2 separate regions of the Homo sapiens genome follow, and region 1 is linked to region 2. The links come from fine-mapping of genetic effects on gene expression. A gene starts in region 2. The other region holds a variant in brackets. All regions are shown on one strand. Distances are between the middles of the regions.

Evidence for each region. PIP is the estimated chance that this variant, and not a neighbour inherited with it, causes the effect.
Region 1: its variant is fine-mapped to the expression of CLN6 in whole blood (INTERVAL, PIP above 0.99).

What each region holds. Positions count from the first base shown.
Region 1 is chr15:68,202,553-68,208,059 of GRCh38, reverse strand. It overlaps CALML4 (calmodulin like 4), which reads left to right and starts at 2,728. Exons shown (of 5, transcript NM_033429.3): 1 at 2,728-2,815; 2 at 2,909-2,939. The coding sequence starts at 2,813. It overlaps CLN6 (CLN6 transmembrane ER protein), which reads left to right. Exons shown (of 7, transcript NM_017882.3): 7 at 1-1,068. RefSeq lists an enhancer at 1,735-2,029. The variant C/T (reference allele first, on the strand shown) is at 1,917.
Region 2 is chr15:68,227,192-68,232,191 of GRCh38, reverse strand. It overlaps CLN6 (CLN6 transmembrane ER protein), which reads left to right and starts at 2,464. Exons shown (of 7, transcript NM_017882.3): 1 at 2,464-2,690. The coding sequence starts at 2,608. RefSeq lists enhancers at 1,720-1,769, 3,000-3,079, 3,110-3,179 and silencers at 2,421-2,600, 2,370-2,959.

The DNA of each region.
Region 1 (5,507 bases), 24 kb after region 2:
TGTGGGTGTGTAACCAGAGACCGAGAGCATGAGTGGGGTGTGCCTCGTGTGCGTGGATTCGTGTGTGTGTGTGTGTGTGTCTTGTATATGTGTGCGCAGAGTGCATCATTTTCAGACTCTACTATTTCCGTCAAGTTTCTGTTTGATTTGGATCATCTCAGGATCGGATTCTGTTTTAGAGTGTTTCTGGGCCAGGATCCGGGCCCCTGCCCTCCTCTGCACCTGACCACACTCCCTACTCAGGGCTAGTCTGTTCTTCCCGGACATCTTCTGGTAGCCGTGCAGGAGAGGGCTGGGTGGGGCAGAGGCCAGGAGGGGACCTGGTGTGTCACCTGCCCACCACCTGGCTCATCCCTCAGGCCCACCCTGACCCTACATTACATAGGTTACGTCAGCCTACTGTGGCTGTTGAGCAAAGCATTTCTCCTTTCTGGGCCTCATTTGCACTAGATGGGCCTGTGGTCCCAAAGTAGGTCAGTAGGTTGGGGTTGCTGACACCCCTTGGGTGCAGCTTTGGGACAGATGAGTGGCTCTGTCCTGTCACTGCCCTCTCCCTGCCTGGGGGCTATGTGCACTCCAGACCCCTGCCCAGGCTCAGGCCCATGAGGTATGGAGACACCCTGGCCCCCAGGAGCTGGAGGCACCGCCCACTCCCCTGGCATTCCAGCTTTGCAGGTGACCCTCCTCTACCCAAAGCTCTGTCCCCCTGCTCCCACTCCAGAAGAACTGCGGCACGCGCTTCGGGCAGCCTAGCCACAGGCTTTGAGCGCCTGCATTCCTGGGGGCTGGAGGGTGGGGTGCCAAAGGCCCTGAGCAAAAGCCAGAGCTCCTCTCATCAAAGCCTTTACAAGGTGCTGGGCCCAGAGGCTTTGCCTTGACAGAGTGGCCCAGGGTTTCAAGGGAGGAGGAACCTCCCCCTACCTAGGACCCTTCCTGTGGGGGGTCTACAGAGTCAGGGACAGAAGGGAAGGGACCCACAGGAAGTCACAGTGGTGCCCAGGGATGTGTCAGCCCCCAGCCACGGGGACGCGGGATTCAAGAATGAAGTAAATACAGTCACAGCCCCAAGTGGTGTTAGAGGTGTTTTTTGTCTTTTCTCCCTTTCGTGCTGAGGTGTAGCACACACGGTGCGCCCTACAGCATGGTGAGTTGCTGTATCGTGAACCCTCACGCAGCCATTGCCCCACGCTGGTGTTTTCCATCTGTGCGTCACCCCCGGAGACACCTACACACATAAGGAGGGAGTTGGCCGGGGCACCCCAGCACACACTGGCCTAACTCCAAGGAGGCACCTCATCTCTTCTGGAGCCCCTTCCCACAGGCAAGGGGATTCAGAGGGAGCATGTTGGCCTGGCCGCCTTCAGGCTTCCAGAGTCCCAAGTGACTTTCCTTGATGTCCTTCTCTCCATCCTCTGCACAGAGGCAGCCTTCCCTCCTCTTATCCCTGCCATGGGGTTTGGGAGGGGGAGCCTCAAACTCTGACAGGGAGGAGTCGGAGTCCCCAGCTAAAATTCTCTGGGTCTAGAAACAGGTGTAAAGCGATTCTGGGGATGTGATTTGGGAGAAAAGCACACTTTCCACACAGAGGCGGTCAGGAAAGGAGCGGGGAGGGGAGAGTGGGGCACAGGCAGCGCCTCCCGTCTATGCGCCTGTGTGCAAAGTGGCACAATGCCCCCCTTCCTATTGGCAGTGCAGCCCCTGGCCAGCAACCACTCGCACCTGGGCTGGGGGCCTTTGTGTAGGGCACACCTGTGCAGCCACACCTACTTGTAGAGCCTCATAGACTCAGCTGTGGACAAAAGCCTCACGCCCCAAACAGGGAAATGGGATCTCAAGGGGAAGAAGCTGGGGAGGCCTCACACCCTGCCCCCATTTCCTCCTATGTGGGGGAGGGGAGCAGCACGAACTCCTGAAGA[C/T]TTGGGAGCGTCAGCAGCTTCTGCGGAAGGGGTGGGGCTGAGGGTGGAGAGAGGAAGGGAAGGAAGAAAAGGGGAGCCTTCCTGGCCAGGGTAACCGGCACTAAGAGGCCTCACTCCAAGCCCCCGAGGAGCCTGTGGTGGGGCTGGAGACCCGGCTCAGGCCCCTCCACCACCCTTAAAGTCCTCAGAAGGTGGGAACTGAACTGGCACAGGATGGGAACCGGCTGTGCGCTGGCCACTTGATTTTGCCAGCTGCCCTGTAATTCAGCTGGTGAGGAAACTGAGGCACAGACTGAGGTAGAATGATTCGCCAGTCACTCAGCAAGTCAGCAGACGGGGAGGACTGAATCCCAGCCTGAGAGCACCGAAGCTTGTATCCCTGCAATACCGAGCCCCAAGCCTGCGAGCCCCGGTGCCCATCTCTGAGTTAGGCCGTCTTGGAAGGGTTCCCTTCCTCCTACAAGATGGTGTGTGAGGAGCCTTCAATACGACCCGGGGTGTAAAGTGTCCAACTCTAGTAGGGGCCTGATGGCATCCCCGCCGAGTCCCAGGAGAGAGAGAGAAGACCCCTTCCTGGAGTCCAGGGCTCCCGGGAAGAAACACTGGCATTTGTCCCTTTGCTTCGGCTTCTGGAGGCAGAGACTCTGAGCCCAGGGAGAGCCTTCTGCAGCCCCATTTCCTCAAAAATCCAACCTGCCCAGGTGGCGGGTCATGAGCTGTGCTCAGGAAGCTGGAATCTGACCCTGGTGGCGTCGGGCCCAGTCTCCATGGCAGCCGAGCATTTATTACCCGGGCCTCCACCCAGCTTGGCAGACTTTAGACTTGAGGCTGGAGGAAAGGGAACTGAACGCGGTTCTGGGAGCAGCAAGCCCACGGGTAGCAGCCGAGGCCCCAGAATGGTGAGTGTGAGGGTCTGTGTCGGCCTGGCCAGGGCTGGGGGCGTGAACCTCAGGTGGAGCCCTCCCCTGACTGTTTTCCTTTCTCTGCTGCAGGCCAAGTTTCTTTCCCAAGACCAAATTAATGGTAGGTTGGGTTTGTTCTTTGATTAGCAACTCAGCAAAATATGGGTCTCATTAGGCAATTTGCTCTGCTCATGTTTTCTTGGTGGGAAGGAAGGTGGCTGTGGGAGAGCTGGGCCCACCCAGGGCCAAGAGCTGCGGGGAGGCTGCTGTTGGCGGGGTGGGGGTTGGGGGTAAGCCTCCAAAATAGACATGTGGCTTTATACTTGTCAGTGTGACTTACAAGCCAGGGCGCTAAGACAGAACTTACTAGGTTTCCCTCCAGAACCTGACCAGTTGGATTTGGGGACTGAGGGGACTGGGGATGGAGAGAGAGACCATTAAAGGTATGGCTGGCAGCAGGGAAAGAGGAGGGGCTTTGTAATTGAGACAGAACAGAGGCCAGGTCTGCACTCTCTGGCAGGATGCGTCTACTCTCTGCGCCTCAGTCTCCCTATCTGTAAAATGGAGGGTCCACTGAGCCCCCTTTGCCCTGGCATCAAGCCTGGTTTGGGCGTGAGCACTTTATTCCCTGGGTCCCCTACTCTGCCAGCCCTCGACCAGGCTTCAGTTTCACACCGTGCAGGGTTCTATTTCCAGAAGGCCAAGAGCAAAGAGTTGCGTTACAAAGAACTTGGGGGCCCAGACCTGAGCCAGGGGAGCCTCATGGCTGCAGCCCCCCTGCACCTGGCAGGAGAGGCCCAGGAGGCACAGCCAGCTGCTGCTTGAGGTTGTGACCCTGAAACCTGTCCCAACAGTGGACGTCAATGGGCCTGAGAGTCCCCCGAGGCATCCCATTCCTCCAGGTCTTTGCTGAAACATCGCCTTCTCAGTGAGTCCTTCGCTGACCACTGGAGATAAAATTACAGGCACCTTGGGCCCTTGTGATCCAGGGTAGGGTCCTGAGAGCCCAGCCAAGTGGGGTTAGGGTTACCTGGGCAGGAGTTCCAGAGTTCTGGGTATTCTGAGCTTGGTCCAGAGGGGCAGGAATTGTGAGCTCCAGGTGGGCACCTCCACGTAGAACCCTGGAACTCTTTATCCCAAGAGGAGGGCCAGGGCAGGAGCAGGGACTTTTAAAACACAGGGCCCGGGGCAGTGCCCTCTTGTCCAGGTCTAACGGTGATAATGAATGGTGGACTGAGGGCTGGAGTCCAGCCTTCAGCCTCAGCATCCTCCCACCCATGCCTGGTTTTGAGGCTCACTGACCCTCCCTCCTGGGATAGCCAAAGCTCCCAGAAGGGAAGAAGGTAAATTGTCTTTGTATCCCAGTATCTGACACCAAGAAAGTGGCCACCAGTGTTTAATGAGTGTGTGAAAGACTGGATGGGGTGGCCTAGCGAAGTGGGAAGAACAGGGGCTTTGGAGGCAGCAGACCTGAAGCCTAATCACCCTTGAGCCTCGGTTTTCTCACCTATGAAGTAGGATATGCCACCTTACCAGGCTGCTGCGAGCCACGGACAGAGGGGAATAATGTCAGTTACATGCTGGACGCTGGGCCAGGCATAGCCAGGTGTCACCCACATGTGGGCTGGGGCTGGCTCACTACAGCTAGCAAGAGCCATAGTTTTAGGAATTTTGCAAGCAGGATGTTAAAGCCAGCCATTATTAAATAATGTAGGATCAAACAGTGTTTCAATCCCTACATCTATCTGTACAAAAAGTTAAAAAGACAGCCCTATTGTGATCAGTGGAGATGGAGATTTGAAAGAAGTTTCAATTTAATGAATGTGTTTGGTAAAAGGGTGAGAAATAGTTTAACAGTAGATCACATCAGGTTTAATGACCATTCATTCATTGGAAAAAGAATCGCACTCATTGGCGCGCAGCTTCATTTGTCAAATCATGGTTGAATCGAAACTATAGGTTGGCAATGGATATAAGAGTTGGCAAAACTTGGGCTGAGTGCAGTGGCTCACGTCTGTAATCCCAGCACTTTGGGAGGCCGAGGCATGTGGATCACCTGATGTCAGGGGTTTGAAACCAGCCTGGCCAACATGGTGAAACCCCATCTCTACTAAAAATACAAAACTGGCCAGGTGCAGTTGGCTCATGCCTGTAATCCCAGCACTTTGAGAGACCGAGGGAGGCAGATCACCTGAGGTCAGGAGTTTGAGACCAGCCTGGCCAACATGGTGAAACCCTATCTCTACTAAAAGTACAAAAATTAGCCTGGTGTGCTGGCAGGCACCTGTAATTCCAGCTACTCAGGAGGCTGAGGCAGGAGAATCACTTGAACCCAGGAGGCGGAGGTTGCAGTGAACCGAGATTGAGCCACTACACTCCAGCCTGGGCAACAAGAGCGAGACTCTGTCTCAAAAAAAAAAAAAAAAAAAAAAAAGCCGGTCATGGTGGCACATGCCTATAATCCCAGCTTCTTGGGAGGCTGAGGCAGGAGAATCACTTGAACCTGGGAGGTGGAGGCTGCAGTGAGCTGAAATTGTGCCATTGCACTCTAGCCTGGGCAACAAGAGCAAAACTCTCTCAAAAAAAAAAAAAAAAAAAGTTGGCAAAACTCATTTGTGGTAATCAAGTGGCTAGATGGAATTTATTTATTTGAGACAGAGTCTTGCTCTGTGCAATGGCATGATCTCCG
Region 2 (5,000 bases):
AGCAAGACTCCGTCTCAAAAAAAAAAAAAAATATCGGATACAGCTATAATTGAAAAGTAGTGGGAACCTCTACTAAAAGAAAAGTCAAAACCACCAAGATGCATAATACCAAAGGACCTTCTCAGCTGAAAGATTTCTTGATGCTGGCCACTGAAATTGCAGCTCAGAGAGCTGAGACTAGACTCCCTTCTGATGTGCAGGGCCCATGTTCTCAGATAATCACAAACAAGATCCTGCAAATGTGTACCCCTCAGCTTTACTCTATCCTCCTCCCCCAAATTTCCATGCAATTTAAAGAGCTAATGAAGATGGTGTTTTTAAAGTGTCCTGGTGGGATGGGAAAGAGAGGGGGCTGATAATCCCACCGGACAGGGAGAATTCTCATCTTGTTCATTCAGAAAGGCCCAGCCCCCTGCCAGGTTGGACTCCCCTCCCCTCAAGGGGTAGCAGCGGACTCCAGAAAAAAGGCAGATGTGTTTGTATTTAAGAGATTGGAGGATTAAATGAGCTAGAGAGGCTCCCTCCACACGGCCTCATCCTCTGATGGCTGGAAGCCCACCTCTGAGTGTTATTAAATCGATGATGACATCATGGGCACTGCATGCCCCTCCCTCTGGAGCCCAGCAGGCTTGCAAAGCCTGCAGAGGATAAGAAATTGGGGTCAGAGCGGGAAGCCTCAATCCTTCTTCTCTGGTGTATACCGAGATCGATGTGTAGATCAGATTCACCAGAATTAAATCTGGGGCCCCGTCTGAGTGCTGTCCTTGGCTGACCCTTGGGCACAGTACTTCAGCTCAGGGCCTAGGTTTTTCTCTGCTACAAAACAGAGACAATCACCTGTTCTCCTTACGACCTGGTGTGTGTGGATCAAATGAAACAAGGAAAGCTTTAAAGCAAATGTGTTCTTCAGGGGACCAGGGGCGGAGGGGGGGGATTGAGGTGTGGCCTGTGGGCTGCTAGAGCCCAGGATGGGGCTGATGGAAAATGACTCCCAGGCAGGCAGTCCTAGCCTCCCACAGCCAAGAAAGGACATGCAGGTTCTGACCAAAGGGGAAAGAAATAAATCCAATAAACATCTCCCAAGAAGAAAGACAGGAAAGAAAATAGAATGGAAATAGGCATAGCTCAGACCCCTCATGGTCTGGGAAGCAGACCAAGGATACTGGGCAGGGGAATGGCACATTGCATTTGCATCTGAGGCACATCCCTTCCAAGAGGCACATCCCTTCTGCAGCGGCTTGAGGGCTGGGTGAGAGGAGACAGGACTGGAGACCTGCACATGTCGTGTGCGCCTGGTGTAGCACGGGGGTGGTGGGGAGAATGGGAGTTGGTTGCAGTTGTTCTAGTTAGCGGCCTGGGCTGCTGACAGTGACCGTGGGGAGGAGAGAGTTTGTGACATTGACAGTGGTGTGGAAGGTAACCTTTCTGTGGAGGGAAACCTCAGGTCTCGAGACGGGCTATTGTAAATAACTTAGTCCACCAGTGCTGGGCTCTCTGCTAAGAGTTTCATATAGTCATCACAACTCCAATGTAGTAGATGCAATAGGCATCTTCTTGTTACAGATGAGTAAACTGAAGCTGTGAGGGGTTGAGCCATTTGCCCGCATCACAGCTAGTTCAAAGTGGTACCACTAATGAAGTCCTGGCAATCTGCCCTGCAGGCTGTTCTCAGGTTTGACCTTTGGTTCTGTTTTTCACTTGAGGATGCTGTCCCCTTAGGTTCTGTCTGTCTTGTATGCTCCGGTGACTCACGAGCCTGTCCACTGGGTTCCCAGGTCTCGCCTCAGCTTCAGACCACCGGTCCAACAGCCTTCCTGACCCACCTCAAGCTTAATGCGTTCAAAGATGAATCTTTATTTACACGAAATCTGCTCTAGCCCACTTCCCGGGGGGTGCCTCCACTATCCACCCAGGGGCAGAATCCGGCCACTGCCTGAACTCTTCTCCCCTCACCCCCCACATCCAGAGTCCCAGTCACCATACCTCTCACACGACTCTAGATGTCACCAACTCGCTCCTTCCCACTGTCACCGCCAGCCCCTCACTAGAACATCTGCAACCCACGTGCTGCACCACGCGGGTGCTACACGTGCAGGTCTCCAGTCCTGCCTCCTCTCCTCCACCCGTAAGAACAAGGGAAATCCCACAGAACCCTCTGCCCCGGGGAGCATTTAAATCAGCTTAGTCTATCTCCAGGTCGCTACCCCGCCCCAGCCCAACACCCAGGCCTCAGTCACCCTAGACAGAGATTCCCGTACCCAGGCAGGCAAGGGACCCTAACACATCCCAGCCCGCTGGTGGTCACGCGCGCAGCCCGGACAGGCCAGCAGCCCCCGCCCCGCGAGGACGCCACACTCGCAGCGCCCGGCCCTCCCCTAGCGGAGCCCGCCCCGTCTCCCTCCGCCCCGCCTCCCTCCGCTCCGCTCCGCTCCGCTCCGCCCCGCCCCGGGTCCGCAGCCCCGCCTGTTCCTCCCGAGGGCCGCGCGCTCTCGCCGGCCCGCCCCGAACCGCCCCGCGCTGGGAATTTGCGGCGGCCTCCGCCGGGGCAGCCGAGCTGAACCGGTCTCTTCCTCGGAAAGGCAGGGCCGAGGGGCCTGCGGGGCAGCCATGGAGGCGACGCGGAGGCGGCAGCACCTGGGAGCGACGGGCGGCCCAGGCGCGCAGCTGGGCGCCTCCTTCCTGCAGGCCAGGTGGGCGCGCGCCGGGGTGAGAGGGCGGGCTAGGCGCCTGTGCGCTGGGGCCTCGGGACCCGCCACGTGACGCTCCTAGGGCTGCCGGGCGGGAACCTCGTGTGCGGCGCTGGCCGGGGCGGAGCGGAGCGCGGGGGGCTTGGAGGCGCGCTACCGTGGCGGCGGTGCCCCCGCGTTTCCTTCTCTGTCTGGGGAGCCTGGGGCCCAGCGGGGCTCGGCCTCCCCGCTTCGCCGTTGCTCGGGTGGGAGGAGCGCCCGCCCGAAGTTTGGGGTTTTCCTCCCTTCCCGCGTTCCAGCGACCCGGGCTGGCGCCGGGACAGCCGCTGCGCTGGGAGAGCTCCCCAGGGCGGTGGGTACACACACCTCGTCACTCGGACCCCCAACTTATCCGCAAGTTCCGGGCGCCACCTCCGCGTTCTCGGGGTCCCTCCAGCCCTGAGTAGGACTTGATTCTGTCATTTATCAGGAGGCTGTCTGCTTGACCTGGGGCACCCAAGAATGTGCGAATGTAATGGAAGAGACAGCGGGGAAGGGCGGAAGCTGCCGTCCAGAGAATGAATGAGGAGCCCTTCTCAGTTTTTGGTTTATCTCGTTGGGCGAGCAGAGCTCCATTCTACCTTCGTCCCGTTTTACTGACCAGAAACATTCACTGCATTCAGCAGGCATTCTTTAAGCGCCTGTGGTATGCCCAGCGCTGTGCCAGGCAGTAAGGGGGTAGGCAGGGTGAAGGTGGGAGAGGCTTACGGTCCTGTAGGGATCAGGAGAGACAGAGCCCAAGTGGGAGTGAGCGGTCATCTTGGAGGGCTTCATGGAGGAAGTGGCACTTGAGCTGAGTCTCAGAGGACTTGGTAGGGGACCCAGGGAAGACAGGCTGTTCCATCCAGGGAAACAGTGGGGAAGGGCAAGGAGTTTAGTGGTGCTGGAGCTTTCCGGCTGTAAAAGAAAGTGACAGGAGGATGCAGACTGATTGTGAAGGGCCTTTAATTGCAGCAAGTCTAGGACTCGAGTTGAGGACCTAGATTGCAAAACTTAGGGGTAGGCGCACTGCCGTGACCGTGAGTGCCGCCTCAAATGTTGGGCCTTGGAGGCCTTGCTTGTCTCACCCTAGTTCCTGTCCTAGGTGACAGGTTAAGGACACAGTCTTTATCCCATAGGCACTGGGGAGTCGTGAGAAGTTTCTGAGCACTAGCATGCGCAAAGTCCTTGTTAGGAAGTTTTTGGTACGACCTGGATGAAGGGAGAAGTCTGAGCGCTTGGGCTGAGGTGAGGGATGGCTCGTTTCTGCTGCTGCGGACATGCGGGCTGAGCAGCTGCGGACTGTGTCCGTTTTCACTTAGAAACAATGTACTGGCCATAGACCGCATACTGTAGCTCACCTGTCTCCCTCGGCCTGTGAGTTAAGTATTATTTTACTGATGAGGAAATAGGCTTAGATGGGCTGAGGAGCCTGACTGGCTGAGTCCCCGGGCTGTCTGCCCCACGCCGTGTCCAGTGGTTTCATCTCTGCTGTGACCCAACCCATTTACCAGCTCCCCTCTTCCAGGCAGCCTCTTCTGCCTGCGGGATGTCTCTGTTCCGAATCCTTGCCAAGTTGGGGGTCACTGACTGCCCTGAACTGTGACAGCCCAATGGGAACAGCCTGTGGGTCTCAGATAGGGTCACCACTTTATCTCCTGTGTGGGGCTCCCATGTCTAGCATCTTACTCAGTCTTGACAATGAGCTGCCAGATGTCACTTCCAATGTACAGATGGGGAAATGGAGGCCCAAAGAGGTTACATCATTTGCTGGCAAGAACCAGGGCCTAAACCCAGGGTTTCTGACTTACGGGCTCTGCTCTTACGACTCCACTTTGGCTGCTAAGGAGTCATGTCCCTCTTCCCCTGTGTGAGCTCCCCACCAGCCAGGGTATTCCCAGGGGGGTGGTGTGAGGGTGGGAGCTCTCTGTCTCCCAGGGTGTCTCTGCCCCCCACAATGTGGCTTCAGCCCATTCCCAGTATCATTGCTGCTCAAGAGAGTAGGCAGAATCATCCTGTCCAGTTCCTAGGATGCTTGGATTTCCTCTGCTGCATCCGTGCTTTGCTCACTACCTCTTAAGGTAACCCATTCCAACGTCCACCTGCTTTGTTGCCAGTTTTTGTATTATAATGAAAGTGTTACAATTAGGCCGGGTGCCATGGCTCACGCCTGTAATCCCAGCACTTTGGGAGGCCAAGGTGGGTGGATCACTTGAGTCCAGGAGTTCGAGACCAGCCTGGCCAACATGGAGAATCCCCGTCTCTACTAAAAAATACAAAAATTATCCAGGTGTG